3 linked regions of the Homo sapiens genome follow. The protein of the gene in region 3 interacts with the protein of the main gene of each other region in a pairwise test. Each region holds a gene or a part of one and is shown on either strand. Other genes may lie near its edges. The genes, in order: DMKN, SCAMP1 and GAD2.

Region 1 (3,654 bases), on a different chromosome or scaffold from region 3:
CGATATCAGCTCACCGCAACCTCCGCTTCCCAGGTTCAAGCGATTCTCCTGCCTCAGCCTCCCAAGTAGCTGGGACTACAGGCGCACACCACCACGCCTGGCTAATTTTTGTATTTTTAGTAGAGATGGGGTTTCACCACATTGGCCAGGCTGGTTTCAGACTCCTGACCTCAAGTGATCTGCCAGCCTCGGCCTCCCAAAGTGCTAGGATTACAGGCATGAGCCACCGCGCCTGGCCAGAAATAGGTTCTAAGAGAGAGCTTGAGAAATAGGAATTCCAGGGCATTGTGAGCCAGCACAAGGGTATAAGAGACCCCTGCTCCAGAAACCTACAGGGACCTTTTTGCCCACCACTGCTATCCAAACAAACCCAGATATCCTGGCTTGGGCTTAAGAACCCCCTGCATCGTCAGGAACATTACACTGCGTTCCCCTCTGCTCCCTCCTCACTCTGGCTGAAGTCCTCAGCTCCCTCACCCCACTGTGAAGAATGGGGCTCCATTCTCTCCCCTGCCCACCTCTGCCCTGCCCTGCTTTCTAGGAGATCTGCCCCTTGAGGAGCTGGCCCAGATGGATCCTGCCTCACTGCGATCACTCCCTCGACTGCCGCCCTAGATGGGCAAAACTGGCAGGGTGTCTATCCTGGCTCTCTGGGAAGTGTCTGTATGTGCCCCGGCTCTCCCATCAGACCCTAAGTTCCCTGTGACCCAGGAAAGAGTCTTGCTCCTACCAGAAACCGTTCTCTGTGAAACAGAGAGGCCAGATGCAGTGACTCATGCCTGTAATCCCAACATTTTGGGAAGCCAAGGTGGGCAGATCACTGGAGGTCAGGAGTTCGAGACCAGCCTGGCCAACATAGTGAAAGCCCATCTCTACTAAAAATACAAACATTACCCGGGTGTGGTGGCGGGCACCTGTAAACTCAGCTACTGGAGCGGCTGAGGCAGGAGAATCATTTTGAACCCAGGAGGCAGAGGCTGCATTGAGCTGAGATCGAACCACTACACTCCAACCTGGGTGACAGAGCGAGACTCCGTCTCACCAAAAAAAAAAAAAACAAAAGAAAGAAAGAAAGAAAAAGAAAAAAGAAAAGAAACAGAGAACATGAATCCACTGTAGCTGGGTGGGAACATCTGTACTCTCCTGTCTCCTCAATCTCCTTCCTAAAAGGTCAGACTTAGATTTTCCTGAGCCCAGTCTTCTCTCTTTTACATTAAAGGCCAGAAACTCCACTGCTCACAGGGGCCAGTCAGGTGGCTAAAATGACTGTGACAGGTAGGGACAGTCTGGCCACTAGGGAGTGACCCCCCCACCCATTCCCAACACCCCCCACCTGGGCCAAGCAGCAGCTGTTTCTCAGCTCTAGCCTAACCCCACCCCATGGAAATGGAACCCAGTGTTACCAAAGTTTTTGAAAGAAACCAGAAATCCAAATCATTATGTGAAGTCTCTCCATGTTTAAACTTTGACAATTAATTCATATTCTTAAAAAAAAAAAAAAATAGAGTGTCTCAAAAACCCATCCTCCAATCACGAATCGCAGCTTCTGCCGGGGGTGTGTCTGCATGGGTTGTCCACCTGTCCTTCCTCCCCTCCCTTCCACTCCAGCCCCCTCTACTCTAGAGGTGCCTGTGCTACTCAGGTATCAAAGCAGCCTGGCCAGGGGTTCCCCTGCAAGACGGAAGGGTAGGCAGGGAGGAAGGAGGGAGGGGTTCTGCGCCCCAGCTGTGTTTTTGTTTGTGCGGGAGAGACTAATGCCTGTCACCCCTGAGGCTCTCGGCCAGTGCTGGTTCCTTTCTCTGGGTGCCCTTCCTCTTGGGGCCTCTTAGCTCCACCTCACTCCTCATTCCATGTGCCCTCTAGGAGTCAATCTACTCTCCCCTTAACCTTCCCCATCTCAAAGGGGAAAGTGAGGTTCAGGACCTGCTCGGGTCTATATGCTGAAACAGCAAAGAAGCCCGTCCCCTCTGCTCAACCTCAATCTCAGCTGCTCCAGATTCTCCCCCTCTTTTCAGGTCTCCTCTGTCCTCCCTCCTCCACCCCCAGTGTGTTTAGTTTTTGTTTTTAGCACTGGCCTAAATGCTTCCTCAGTGGCCAGCATCACTGTTTCCCCAGCTCACAGAGCGGAGGTTTAGCTTTCTTCCCTATAGCCCTCTCCGACGAAGATGTCCAGCCCTTACCTTGTTTATGGCATCCCAGTTGATGAAACCCAGCTTGGATTTAAAATTCTATGGAGGAAACAAAAAGAAGAATGGCCAAATTGAGTCATAAGGTAATTGGCCGAGAGAGGTCAAGGGCCACTGCTGACTGTTGGTTTAGAAAGAGGACCCCAGACTGTGGGGCCAAGGGCAGGGGTTGGTTTTCCAAATGCGAGTGAACAGAGCCATCTCGCAGAACTCACCTTCCAGAAAGTGTCAAAGTTAAACATCCCAGGAGACGTCTCAGAGTTCTATGGAACCAAGGAGATATGGGATGAGAGAAGAACCCACTTTGTGAGCCAGAGTCGGGAGATCTGAGTGGCAGGAGGGGAGGCGAGGATTGTGTGACACCATGGTCCCAGCCCAAGGTGGAGTGTTGCCTCCACTCACCACAGTATTGACTCCACCAACAGCGTCACCTCCTCCACTGCCCCAGCTCGACCCTTGCCCCTGGGTGGGGAAAAGGGGGACCGATGTCCAAGGCTTATGCTTCCTATCATGCCTGCCACCTGTCAACCTGCCCCGGATTGCTTCATCCCCACCTCGGTCCAGGCTTCCTGTCCTCCTCTCTATAAAGCTGCCTTCTCTTCCTTACACAGCACCAAAAAGTTCACTTGGGAAAGCTTTCTTAGAATGGATTGCTCCCATGGAACCCCACCCAGTCCCCTGAATCTCAATATTCAGACTCTTGCCTCCATCCTGGTCTGTCCCCAAAACACCTCAAGCAAATGAGATTAGCTAACGTGTAGTCCCACGGCACGCCAAGCACCATGCCTTATGCAGCATCTGTCTCCAGAGTCTGGACTCCACAACACCTTGGTCTGGTGGTGACATGGAAAGCTGTACAGTAACTGAAGGCTGCGTGAGTCAGGTTTCACTGTCCTCATTTTACTGGAGGAAGCTCAGGCTCGGAGAGGTTAGCTGACTTGCCTGAAGATATACAGATGACATGATAGAGCTGGTGGTGATTTTAATATATATCTTAAATTTTTTTGAGGCTGGGCATCGTGGGTCACGCCTGTAATCCCAGCACTTTGAGAGGCCGAGGTGGGTGGATCACCTGAGGTCAGGAGTTTGAAAACAGCCTGGCCAACATAGTGAAACCCCATCTCTACTAAAAATACAAAATTAGTCAGGCATGGTGGCACATGCCTGTAATCCCAGCTACTTGGGAGGCTGAGGCATGTAATCCTAGCTACCTGGGATTACAGGTGTGAGCCACTGCACATGGCCTATTATTTTCTTTTTAAAAAGTAGAGACAGGGTCTTCCTACGTTGCTCAGGCTGGTCTCAAACTTCTGGGCTCAAATGATCCCCACACCTCAGCCTCCCAAAGTGCTGGGATTACAGTTATGCTGGTGCCTGGCCAGAGCTGGCTTTCGAAACCTCATCTTCTACCTCAAAGCTCAGTGACTTTCTCCTTCTCAACACTGCCTCCCTAAGTATGGAAATCCCC
Region 2 (3,654 bases), on a different chromosome or scaffold from region 3:
AGAGTTAGAAACCCAGATCTGTAAACAGATGAGGGAAAAACAGAAGAGAACAGGAGATGGGAGAACATTAGGGAATTTGGAGAGAAAATGTATCAGACAATGAAGAAGTAAATTATTACTTAGAAATGGCATAAAGAGAAGAAATGATGAGAGGAGGAGTGAAGGGAAGAAATGATGGGAGAAGGGAAAGGAGAAAAGAACCTTTGGATACATTGAAATATGGGAGATTGGTTGCCAAGGAACGGGGAGAGCTTCTCCTGTAGAGATGGGTTGGAGAGGAATGAAAGGAACATAGTTACTCCTTGCATGATCTGAGTTATTGCTGTTATTTTCTTCGTTATCTAAGCATGGCTCACAAGGCTTTTTCTGTTTTTTGTTAGTTTGTTTTGTTTTGTTTTTTTTGGACATCTAACCTCTGCCTAATGACCTCCATCACATTACCAATATGTTATCGATCTGTGATGATGCTGGCTGGTGGGAGTGAGGATATCTTTATGAAACTTTTCAAAAAAGTGACCTGAGACTAGGGAATTTGGATTTTAAACCTTCTGTTACTTATGTAGCCAAAATAAATGACTAAAAGCCAGCTTTGTGCCTTTTATTTCCTGAAGTCACTTGGTATCTTTTTTTTTTCCCCCATTTTGGCAGTTGAAATAAAAATGCTTGGTGGAACATTTTTACTTGTGGCATTATTGATCCCTAGGCTGAGTTTTTAGCTGCATCTCAGTCTTTTAGAGTATATACAAATATATTAATAATCTGGTTTTCACTGTGCAGAGTAGAAATGAGAGGAATACTTTTTTTTTTTTTGAGATGGAGTTTTGCTCTTGTTGCCCAGGCTGGAGTGCAATGGCTTGATCTCGGTTCACTGCAACCTCTGCCTCCTGGGTTCAAGCAGTTCTCCTGCCTCAGCCTCTCAGGTAGCTGGGATTACAGGCATGCACCACCATGCCTGGCTAATTTTGTATTTTTAGTAGAGACAGGGTTTAACCATTTTGGTCAGGCTGGTCTCGAACTGCTGACCTCAGGTGATCCGCCCACCTTGGCCTCTGCCCACCTCGGCCTCTGCCCACCTCGGCCTCCCAAAGTGCTGGGATTACAGACATGAGCCACTGCGCCCAGCCTCGAGAGGAATACTTTTTATGGGGAAAGTTGAATTAAAGTATTTATAATCATTAATATACCTTCCTGTTATGTATCTTTGGCATTTCCTTATATTGATATATTTACAGGACTTTGTTCTCCGTAAGGTAAACTCATTGTAAAAATCTCAAGGAAAATTATATAGTGAAGTTTCAAATGTATGTGTTTTTAAAAGTTAAGTTTATTAGGTATCAGGATTAAACATGAAGTTGTCATTTTGTTATTTATGTAGTTTACAAAGATTGTAACTTGGGGCTGGGCATGGTGGCTCATGCCTGTAATCCCAGCACTTTGGGAGGCAGAGGCTGGCGGATCACATGAGGTCAGGCGTTTGAGAACAGCCTGGCCAACATGGTGAAACTCCATCTCTACTAAAAATACAAAAAATTAGCTGAGTATCGTGGCATGTTTCTGTAATCCCAGCTCGAGGCAGGAGAATCGCCTGAACCCGGGAGGCAGAGGTTGCAGTGAGCCAAGATCGTGCTACTGCACTCCAGCCTGGGCGACAGAGTGAGATCCTGCCTCAAAAAAAAAGAAGAAAAACAACAAAAAAACCCCAACTTGGTCCTGAATTTTGTACTTCCACAAATCACTAGGCATTATGCAAATACATCAAAATATTAGGTAATTATTAACAAGGCAGCATTATTGTTGAATGTTGTTGAGTAACTATTAGAAACAGACTGAGAAAGAGTATTTGCATAATGCTTAGTGATCTTGGCTTCCCCACTTAAAAAGCTGTGCGGTTCTGAGCACATGCAGTAAAACTCAGAGCCTCAGTTTGTTAGGTTTAAATGAGGGATATTTGTAGAGTTGAAAGAAGGATTAGAGATAATGTATGCAAGTTTTGCATTATAGATGGTGAATAAATGGTAGCTGTAATTAATTTTTAACTTTTTTTGGACCCTCTTAGATTTTATCATTTACATTTTATGATCTATAAGTGAACTGTGATTTCTTATAGATTATATTTTACAGAGCCATTATTTGTAGCTTTGAAGACAATTTTCAAAGTAGTACTTTCTCCCACTTTTTAATTATGATGTATTTAATGCATACCAAAGAATACCTGAAACACAAGTTAAAAGGCATAATAATGAGTCATCTATGAACTGTGAGCCCACTGGTCAATTTAAGAAATGGAACATTATCAATACCGCTGAAGCACTGGTATGTTTCCATTTCCCTGCTCCATAGGTAACCATTAGGTTGAATTTTGATAATTTTTGCTCATTCTCTAGCATAATTTTAGTTTTTCATATATATTTGTACTCCCAAACCTTTTTTTAGCTTGTAGAGAATATTTTTAAAAGTATTTTAATATTTATAAAAGTGATACATCTTTGTATACAGGTTATTTTATATGCAGTTTTAAGTAGCTGTGCAAATACTTTTTTGGTAAAATAAAGACCTGTTTTAATCCTTTTCTACCAACAGTTCTTGCCGCTGACTTATGTGGGCATTTACCTTTATATTTTAAATAATGATCATATACTGCCATTCCTTGATTTTGTTTAAGTAGCTTTATTAGGATATATTGTATATACTATAAAATTCACCCACTCTTATGGGAAAATTCAATGATTTATTTTATTTTATTTTACTTTAAGTTTTGGGATACATGCGCAGAATGTGCAGGTCTATTACATAGGTGTACGTGTGCCATGGTGGTTTGCTGCACCTATCAACCCATCATCCAGGTTTTAAGCCCCGCGTGCATTAGGTATTTGTCCTAATGCCCTCCCTCCCCTTGCCCCCCACCCCTGACAGGCCCTGGTTTGTGATGTTCCCCTTCCTGTGTCCATGTCTTCTCATTGTTCAACTCCCACTTAGAGTGAGAACATGAGGTGTTTGGTTTTCTGTTCCTGTGTTAGTCTGCTGAGAATGATGGCTTCCAGATTCCTCCATGTCCCTGCAAAGGACATGAACTCATTTCTTTTTTATGGCTACATAGTATTCCATGGTGTATATGTGCCACATTTTCTTTATCCAATCTATCACTGATGGGCATTTGGGTTGGTTCCAAGTCTTTGCTGTTGTGAATAGTGCTGCAATAAACATATGTTTGCATGTGTCTTTATGGCAGAATGATTTATATTCCTTTGGGTACATACCCAGTAATGAGATTGCTGATCAAATGGTATTTCTGGTTCTAGATCCTTGAGGAATTGCCACACTGTCTTCCACAATGGTTGAACTAATTTACACTCCCAACAGTGTAAAAGCGTTCCTATTTCTCCATGGCCTTGCCAGCATCTGTTTCCTGATCTTTTAATAATCACCATTTTAACTGGCATGAGATTGTATCTCATTGTGGTTTTAATTTGCGTTTCTCTAATGACCAGTGATGATGAGCTTTTTTTCATGTTGGCTGCATAAATGTCTTTTGAAAAGTGTCTGTTCATATCTTTTGCCCAATTCAATGATTTTTAAGTAAATTAATAGAGTTGTGCAATCATTACCACAATCAGTTTTAGAACTTTTCCATCCTTCCCAAAATTTCCCTGGATT
Region 3 (3,654 bases):
ACACATGTTGATTTGCAACACTGTACAGTTCAGATCTAAAGTGCACAACCCCAATCTGAGGTGACAAGACAGTATTATCCAGATAATAAAGGCAACACAGTCAGAATTGATTTCCTTTTCTTTCCTCACATCCTGTGGCAGTATATGAAGTCCATACCATGTATAGGTCTCAGATAAAGACATATCACACTTGTTTGTTCAAGTATTTTAAATGATAAACACAATATTGCTGTATAAATGAAAATGGCCATGTCAGTTCTGATTAAAGCTAAAACCAAACTTTTCTAAGATTTGTAAAGAATGGGCACACATAAAGACCATGGCACTGGGAATTTGGGCTAATATTAAAAATAATCTCCCTTCTTTCCTCCCTCCCTCCCTCCCTTCATTTCCTTCCTCCCTCCCTCCTTCCCTCCCTCCCTCCCTCCCTCCCTTCCTCCCTTACTCTCTTCTGACCTGATTCCACATCTCCTTTCAAGATGATTTATTAAACTACTGGGACCTACTAGGCTTTTATTTGCTTCCTTCTTTGGGCTACAGTTGGTAAGGATTTCCCTGCACAGGCCTGAGCAAGGCTCTCAGCCAATTTGAAGGAGTACTGGGAAGGGGTAGGGGAGCGGGGAAGAAGAGCTATTGTTGTTGCTAGAATTGTTTTGCTGGAATTTCATATATAGGCACAAATTGTCCTTTAAAATTTTACCATCTCATTAACCTAAAAAGCAGCAGTTTATAATCTAGGATCTGTAACTCAAAAGATAAAGCATCCTGGAGTACAGCAGGGTTGGTTCACCAGGGCACTGGGCCCCACTGTCTTCTCCACGAAGGACAGCAGGTTGGATCAATTAGCATCTCTGTCTCTGAAGTGGAACCTTTGGGCCTGAGGCTCCGGATAGTCGGGCAGCTATGTGCTTATTCTCAGCAGGCAGTTTTGAGAAAGGAACTGCTTTCTAATGCTTTGTCTAATGCTTGGCCATTAGACAAAGCCTAGAATGGAAGGTTACTCCTTCATGAAATTCTGCGGGACAGATGAAAGAGTTTATTTCTGATTGTCATAGTGAACCCATTTGTTTTTCTAGACAGAAAGGGCCCAAAGCCATGTTCATATCAAGTTATCACTGTTTTTGCATATAGCCTAGGAGAAATAATGTAGGGGGAAGCTTATGAAAATTTCAGATGGCTGGATCCTGTGGTTATATTATAGGGCATTTCTCTATGTTATATTGTAGGGCATTTCTACCCGTTGAAGGGCAGGGCCTTCTCTCTTCCCTTGTATACCTGCAGTCTGAGTACTGAACTACCTGGTCCATTCAGAAATGGAGAATGTTCCTAAATTTGCATTTGCAGTCTGCATATCAATCTATTGTTCTCCAATCAGCACTTGGAATCTGACGATGTGTGACCCCATAAATATCTATGGAAGCTTTTGTTAGCTCATGTTTTTCTATCAGGTTCACAGGGAAAGAAGGATGTTTTAAAAATACTATTTTGAATTCTAAGGATCTTATTATTTCTGCATATTCTGGTCACTTTGGATCTCGATGGGAGATGGATAAAGGAAAATCTTAAGATAATGCCTCAAAATCTAGGGTGAGAGGCTCATTTCATGGAAGAAAAACAACCACCCATGGAATATAAAGTAACTATTTTGGGTCCCAGTGGTAGGGAGTCTAGTGGGAGAGACTTTGTGGGGAGGAATGGGGAGGGGATGGAAATGCGCAACTGGCCTGGAGGTAAATTTCTCTTTCCTGGACAGTGGCAATATGGCGCCAGGATGATGTCATTATTGTCCCACAGAGATCTCTTCTCCCAAGGCCAACTTTAATTTTCTGGGCTCACCACATTCTGGGAGTGTGCTTCATTCCTCTTTGCTCAGGCTGATAAGGTTTTATTTTTACTTTCTCTAATTAATTCAAATGACCTAATAAAAGAATACTATTTGGAAGATGCCTCAAGAACTAGCATCAACCTTCTGTTCAAAACAGGCCGAACTGGAAAGCAGAATAGAGACAATTACCCTAATTTAATCTGAGATGAAGCCTGGTTTGTCACGCTTGCAGAGTGAGTCCGCTAAGAGTAAAATGGGTGGAAAACTTAAAGGGGAAGAGAATCTTACTGCCAATGGGATCAATTATTTTAAAGAACTCGCAGTATTCTTTTGTGTTTGTCTTGAAATACTAACTTTAGAGATGTGATAAGCCATAACATGTATAGAAAGAAGCAATAATACCTTTTAAGAATTTCGTGGGTCAATGTTTCAAAATAACTTTGCTAAGTGTTTTATTGTGCCTCCATTAAGAGAAAGGAAAAAAAAATCTGGCTTAGATTTTATATCTGCCCCCGCAGTTTGTATAACCTATATAAAATAAAAATCTATATGTTACAAAATAGGATATCTTTTTTAATATATATATTTTCCTTTTGTAAAATTATATGTATTTAAATACATTTGAAATGTTGCTATAGGTAAATTAGAAATTTTTTTCTAATACTATGAAAAAGGCAAGAGTTTTTATTGTCAACATATATTTTATATTTACTTTGTCCTTTTTACTGCACCCCAAAGAACCTTTTATGATTCAGGGGCAATTTGGCACTATTCAGTCCTACTAGTCTGAAGTGAAAATAAAGTTTGCTTTGCACACTATATTAAAAGTAAGGGAAGTATTTATAACAATTTTAAGCTTTTCCTTATTGATTAGAACATAGCCTTTTGTCACGAATTCTTAGAGAGGTATTCTAAACTTAAGAAAGGACTTTTAAAAGGAGCAATGTCTTTTTTGTTTAATTTTTAAACTCTACTTTGACACCACAATATAGAAATAGATTTACTTTGGAACAAACTACAAATACATTCACACAGTTTGTGACAACTTAATTGTCTACCTAGAGAAGTGGAACAGCTTGGTGAGCAAGGTTATTATAAATCTTGTCCAAGGCGTTCTATTTCTTCAATCAGGAAGTCAATGTCTTGGTGAGTTGCCGCTGGGTTTGAGATGACCATGCGGAAGAAATTGACCTTGTCTCCCAAGGGTTGGTAGCTGACCATTGTGGTTCCATACTCCATCATTCTGGCTTTAATCACTGGAGCCACCTGTGGGACAGACCATATCAGCATGGTGACTTTCTCCTGGGACTCTCCCCTGAGTCAAAGAACCCAACAGCAAGCAGCGTCTTTAGTTTTTAGCTCAACAGTCAGAACCTTATTGTTTTCTCTTGAAAGAGTTACCTCCAAGTTTTCTTGGGATCAGAGAATTAGAACAGTCTAACACATTCAAGATCCTGCAAGTGATAAGAGGAATAATAAGTGATAGACTATCAGCTGCCTGCCACCTTGTCCTTGACTTTCCAGTTAGTGTTTTGGGAGGATGGGATGAATCTAGTATTGGCCCCAAGCTAAATGGGTTAGCAAGACGTTTGGGGGCATTTTCCCCCCACAGTAAATGTAAAAACATTGGAAATAAACAGTTCAGAGGATTGTTACCAAAATGTAAGTTTGAGTGTCAGGTGATATATGAAGATAAGCAGACTTTTGGCAACTTTCTTGAAACCCCAGAGCTTTCTAGTTTCTTTTCGTTCTCTCTTTGCAGTGCCTCACTTTATAAGATATTTTGAAAGATAATCCTTAATAATGATGATAATTAGCTGGGACAAAAA

The links.
Region 1: the proteins of GAD2 (region 3) and DMKN interact in binary tests that used the Homo sapiens proteins (3 or more experiments, as listed by UniProt).
Region 2: the proteins of GAD2 (region 3) and SCAMP1 interact in binary tests that used the Homo sapiens proteins (3 or more experiments, as listed by UniProt).

What each region holds. Positions count from the first base shown.
Region 1 is NC_000019.10:35,503,538-35,507,191, forward strand, and holds part of DMKN (dermokine isoform 2 precursor), read right to left. Parts: intron 2,649-3,654; coding exon of another isoform or gene 2,589-2,648; intron 2,450-2,588; coding exon 2,402-2,449; intron 2,229-2,401; coding exon 2,181-2,228; intron 1-2,180. UniProt on the Homo sapiens protein: May act as a soluble regulator of keratinocyte differentiation.
Region 2 is NC_000005.10:78,423,052-78,426,705, forward strand, and holds part of SCAMP1 (secretory carrier-associated membrane protein 1), read left to right. Parts: intron 1-3,654. UniProt on the Homo sapiens protein: Functions in post-Golgi recycling pathways. Acts as a recycling carrier to the cell surface.
Region 3 is NC_000010.11:26,300,225-26,303,878, reverse strand, and holds part of GAD2 (glutamate decarboxylase 2), read right to left. Parts: intron 3,092-3,654; coding exon 2,918-3,091; 3' UTR 1-2,917. UniProt on the Homo sapiens protein: Catalyzes the production of GABA.